2 linked regions of the Homo sapiens genome follow. The protein of the gene in region 2 purifies or fractionates together with the protein of the main gene of each other region. This does not show direct contact. Each region holds a gene or a part of one and is shown on either strand. Other genes may lie near its edges.

The links. Proteins that work in one complex are often made in the same cells at the same time.
Region 1: the proteins of RGS12 (region 2) and PPP2R2B purify together in Homo sapiens (co-immunoprecipitation; one large-scale study listed by IntAct). This does not show direct contact.

Annotation. Positions count from the first base shown.
Region 1 is NC_000005.10:146,588,758-146,592,257, forward strand, and holds part of PPP2R2B (serine/threonine-protein phosphatase 2A 55 kDa regulatory subunit B beta isoform), read right to left. Parts: intron 1,470-3,500; coding exon 1,190-1,469; 3' UTR 1-1,189. UniProt on the Homo sapiens protein: The B regulatory subunit might modulate substrate selectivity and catalytic activity, and might also direct the localization of the catalytic enzyme to a particular subcellular compartment.
Region 2 is NC_000004.12:3,436,021-3,438,216, reverse strand, and holds part of RGS12 (regulator of G-protein signaling 12), read right to left. Parts: intron 1-2,196. UniProt on the Homo sapiens protein: Regulates G protein-coupled receptor signaling cascades. Inhibits signal transduction by increasing the GTPase activity of G protein alpha subunits, thereby driving them into their inactive GDP-bound form.

The DNA of each region.
Region 1 (3,500 bases), on a different chromosome or scaffold from region 2:
CCCCACAGTTCATTTCTGTAGAAGAGAGCCTTCTGGTCTGTTTTTCCAGATGGCGAGCTTGGGGTGAGTTAGAAGTGCCTGATTGGACTTCACAACTCAGCGTTTTTATTGGCTATTTTTGTTCTAGGTACAATGGAGGTTGATGGATTGTTACTTTTGGTTACCAAAACCAGGAGGAGGGGAGGGTGCTGCTTAGGAGAAACACCCAAAAAGAACAGACCAGCCTTTCTCAGGGACTCAGGGGTGGTGGCACTGCTTCCAACTTACTGCTTCATTTAGAACACCAGATAATAAGCACCCAGGACTCGGCCTTTAGAAGTCAATGGAATAAATAAGCTGGAAAAGGTTGAAGAGAAAAAAGCCAAGGAACATGTAAGTAGAAGATTATATGGAGCCATTTAAGAGCACAAAAAGCAAGAGTAACAAGGCAGCAGATGGAATTTGGCCCCGCCTGGCCCTGCCAAGCTCACTCTGGGAAGCACTGTGTCGAAAGTGCTCTCTTTCTGTCCCCTGAAGCATTCAAGTTCCCTAGCCAAATTCTCAGGCTGTTTCTATGGAGCTTACAAAAAAAGAGCATAGCAGGGTTGATGTGCCCTTTCCTTGTCATTCTGCATCCTCTTCTCAGCTTCATGCAATAAATCTCTGGCTTAAATGAAATTGTTCAAAGGAAAATGGAAAATGGAAAAAAAAATGGTGGAGGGGCAGGAGATACTGACTAGTTCTGGTTTTTCACAAAACAAGAAGAATTTGTCTAAGAGTAAACGGTGTTTATTTTTTGTTGATTTTTTTCAATCAAATGGAATTGCTTAATTAAAAAAAACTTATCTCTTTTCTCCTTAAATACTACAGACAACCTCATTTTATCGCAGCAGACACCTAGGAACAAAACACTGGACCCACCAGAGAAAACTGGGCAATAAAAGCATCAGAAGTTCAAGTCAACTATGGAAGAATTACTGTTAGCTGGCAGCTTTCAATTCTAAACAGAAGTGTCCCAAACCTATTGGGTTTGACAAAAGTTTCTTAGAACTGGGGAGCTGGGAATGTTGGACTCCTTTTAATTCTATTCCAATCATTTCCTGTATAGGGAAATTAAAGTCAATGCATCAAATGAAGACCCAAAGAAACATTTAAAAACTTGTTTGACTAGTATTCAGTATGTGAGATTATTAAGTAATAACTTGTCCACCTAGTTAACCTTGTCCTGGAATATATATAGGTTATTTGTAGCCGCCACTGCTATAATATTTTCTGAAGGATGCCAAGCTGTATGCAAGATCTTTTTGCTAAAGTCCAGACTGTCGACACTGATCTCGTCTTTTCTCCGCTTGCCCCCCACACACACTTTTCGGGGTTTGAGGATAGCCCGGGGCTTGCTGTTTTCCCTCGAAGCCTCAAGGGTCACATCACGCTTGGTGTTTCTGTCGAACATCCTGAAGAAGTTGTTGTAGGAGCCTGTCATGATGACACTGCAAGGCAGAGAGCAAAGGCAATGACATATCTTCACTGTCTTTTCTTTTTGGAGCAAATGATACCATGTTATGGCCAGCTTATGACACCATAGGTTTTATTAAAAACAAAAACCAAAAAATGAGAACAGGCTCTGCAGTGTGATTATTGGCTTTTTGTTTTTTTTTTGTGTTTTTTTTTTTTTTTTTTGAATCACTGAAAGCAATAGGATTTTTGGCTGGGTTTGGAAATGAGGGATGGTGAGAACTCTCCTTGTAATTTGCTTTTGCTCAATAGATTCTTTTTGCTTCTTTGGCTCAGAAAAGGTGTCCACTGGTTTTAATGATCCCAGTCCTACCTACCTCCCATCAGGAATGTGAGACTAGAATGAGGTTTGTCGAAGTAGACACACTTTTGAAAACAATAAGCAGTTGTACGTGTTTAAGGTTTGGCCACTGTCAACAGGGTTCCTGGGCCGTCTGGCCTCTAAGGCTTCATGGCATCAGTGCAGTGAGGGGAGAGATGCTAGTGGCATCGTGCACGAACCCGGGGCGCGACCTCTCCCCTGCCGAGAACTAGCTCTGAATTCGGCCTTTTTAGAAAACTTATCTACGAAATGGATGTCATCATGGTCTTATCTAGGAAACAAGTAAGGAAATTCAAATTTTAAAAGAATCTGGGATGGAGAAATAAAAAGATTTTATATGGTTTTTTTCCCACACTTAATGGACAGATGGTTTCCACATTTTTATAAGTTATCCCCTCTTAGGCATAGCTGCAATCGATCAGGAGAGTGGCAAACACCCAATGTCTTCCAGAGGCAAGGTACTGAATGTTTAATGGTGACATTTCAGACACGGTGACAAGCTGAGGTGGGGAGGGAGAGATTCCTTGGGCCAGGGCAAGTACCCCAAGTGCCATCACACGGTGGTTCCCCTGGAGTGGGGGGCTCCTACTCATTTCTGGGTGGAGCTCTGACTGGCTCCTTAAGATGGGAGAGCAGGAACTCTCGTGTATTTCTCAAATGATTTGGGATGTGTAGAGAGGTGAAGGAAAAAGCTGACAAGATTGGGCCACAGCAAGGGGGATGTGTTTTTGGGCACGTTGTCACCTGTACCAGGTAAATTAAGCAAAGGTTAGATTTTGTTACTCTGGCTCATCAAACTGATACTGTGAACTGTGTCTGTGTACTCGAGTGGACTGTTATCACCTTGTCAGGCAGGGCGCTGAGGGCTTTGCCTCCATGATCTCGTTTCAACTTCTATTATCCCCTAAAAGGGTTTTACAGAGAAGTAATTTGCTCAGTGTCACATTGCTAATTGGTGGTAAAGTCCACCCTCAAACCCACATATGGTTGACTCTGGGGCATAAGTATTCAGCCGGTTGGCCTCACTGCTTCCCATACTTTGACGTTTGCTTGCCCACCATGACCCGACTTATTTTTAAACAAGTAAGAGATTATTTTCCAAAAAAAAAAAAAAAAAGACTACCAACCTTATCTGAAAGAGAAATTAAACTTCCCAGTTGTGATGTTATAGAAAGAGTGTTGATCTTAGGATTCAAACTCTAAACTTGTTACTTTTGTCTCTACTACTTACTACTTTATGAGGTTGGGCAGATTACTTTATCTTGCTAAGCCTCAGTTTCCTTAACTGTAAAATGAGAACGATGGAAGCAATCTTGTTAGACTGTGGTTGGGATTAAATAAAATGATGTGTACGAATGTGTTTGGTATATAGTAGGTGCCTAATAAGTGTAATTTTTGAATCAAGGCTAAGATAGAGGAAAAACTTGAGCAATAATAACAGATATGTAAATAATAATATATGAATAAATAAATACCTATAAATAAATAATAAAATGAGAGGGCTGGCTTCTTTTTCCCATGGTGGATTTTGTTCTTATGTCACAGTTGCTTTGCTCTCTGTCCTATACCAACTGGTCAGTGTGACTTGGGTCCTTTGCCACGTGGAGACTCCTTCCAAGCCTGCTAAGGAGGGGATTCATTTTGGATCAGTGGCAAAGAAAGCCAAGAAACAGGTGGAGTGTGA
Region 2 (2,196 bases):
GGTGGAGGCCTTGAGGCGCCTATGGGGTGGCAGGAGCCCCAGGCCTGGGCCCACAGCAGACAGGAGGCAGGAAGAGCCAGCCCCCGGCACATGAGAACCAGGGACAGGGGGTCCCTGCTACCAACTGCTGCCCTCCACAGGTGAATCGAAGGCCTGGGAAGGTGAAGACCCTCCTCGATCTACAGTTCTGAGGTCCCTGAAATGGCCGCAGGGTCCTTGCTGCCCCAGCGGCTCCGTGGCCACCAAGGTCCCCAATCCCAGCGTGCCCCTCCTCACCCTCAGTCCAAGCTTCCGGAAGCAGCCTCCATGAGGCATCTGTGAACAAGTCCGGGCTGCGGGCGGAAGGTGTGACTCCCCTCTTGAGCGTGCCCAGCCCGTTCTCTTGAACAGGTCCCAGCAGTGGCCCCAGAGGCCCTCATCCTGGCCTCGACGCAGCAGCCCAGCCAGCATGTGGGAGCTGTGTGGGGCCTGTGTGTCTTACTCAGCCAGGCCCGGTGGAGATGCCATCTGGAGGCCCAGGGGTCCATGTGGAGCAGCTGAGACTAGAAACTTCTCCCAGTCAGGCCTCTGCTCATTCAACAAGTGTCCTACTAGGTTCTGCCAGGGCTAGGAGCTAGCCCTGCCCCCAGGGGACAAGGGGACAGTTCTGCCCATCTCCTTCTTGTCACCAGGTCCGCATGGCTCCAGATGCCAGGCTGCAGGGCTGGGAGATATCGTGTGGGGAGAGGCAGGGGTTTGCCCCCTCTCGCCGGTCAATACCGTGGGCATTTGGGCATTTGCCTGGAGTGTTCATAGGGCTCTGAAGGGGCCTGCAACACCACACATGTCCAGAAGCCCGGCTCTACCCCGCCAGCCCCACATGGACAGATGGGAGGACAGGCCCCTGAGGGCCCCAGGAAGCTAGTGTGCTCAGGATGGAGAAACACTTGTTTCTGGAGACAGGACAGCTCTGTATGGACCAAGGATGTCCACATCACAAGGAGGGGGCCACAGCCAGGCCCTTCCTGCCTACGGGAGCCAGCCTCGCCCTCCTGTGCAGGGCAGCCAGCCCCAGGCCTGTGACTCAGCTGCCTGGCCCCGCCCTGAGCAGCACGCTGCCTCACCACCTACATGCCAGGGCCTGCCCGGGGAGCACCTTCTTGCCCAGCATTTCCCTGGCAGGGATGGCAACACAGAGGACCCAGCAGAGCCTGCACCACCTCCAGAGGGGCCTGGCCTCCTGGTCTCACTCCTGGTGCCACATCTCCAAACATCCAGACCTGAGGCCACACTGGGATCTTGTTCCCTGCCGCTTGGGCCACCTGTGAACCTCTCCCCGGCGCCCCACGGCTCCCTGCCCTCGGCTGGCTGGTCCTGCCGGCTCCGACTGTGCTGTCCAGCCTTCCCAGGAGGGGGTCCTGCTGGAGGCCCCACAAGATGCAGCAGGAAGGCCCCTCTTTCCACATGCGCAGGCCCCTCACCGGCTGCCGGTCGCCCCCAGGCCTCCCAGACACTTGTCCATGAATGTCTCTGTGCCAGCCACTGCCAGCTGCTCTGGCCTAGGCCTGGGGCAGGACCCCGCCCCACCCTGGTCCTCAAAGCTGAGTCAGGAACCCTGGCAGGCACAGCGGGAGCAGGGGCTGCACTGGCCTGGCCGGGGCAGGGGCATGGCCTGAACTCTCCCAGGCTCTCCTTCGAGACCCAGGCCTGGCACCTCTCCCACTGCCCGCCCTTCCTGCCCCCCGAGGGACCCCGTCCCCCAGGCACTTTGCTCAGCCTCTGCCTCCATGCTCCACATCATCTGTGCTGCCAAGCGCAGCCACCTCCTCTGTGAAGCCTCCCCAGCGCCCCTTGGAAGCTCGCAGGGCACAAGGACACCCAGGCAAGGCTGAGCCGGCTCACACTGAGAACACGGCAGGAAGGGGGGAGCGAGGGGAGCCAGAGGCGGGGACCCTACAATCCACTGTGGCTCCCAAGGCCCCTTCCCTTCCCAGCCTTCCCACCACAGCGCACCCCACGGGCTCCTGCTAAGGCCTGTGCACTCCTGCTGATGGGCCCCCATGGGAACGAGAGCACCCCCAGAACCTTAGTTCCAGAGTGTGACCCCCCCAAGGTCCCCCTGTCCGTGTGGGTCCCCAGCCAGGATCATGACTGTGTGTGATGGGCTGGGGCTGGGATAGAGCTCCTCAAATATTTGCTGGGCATTGGCGAGGGAGT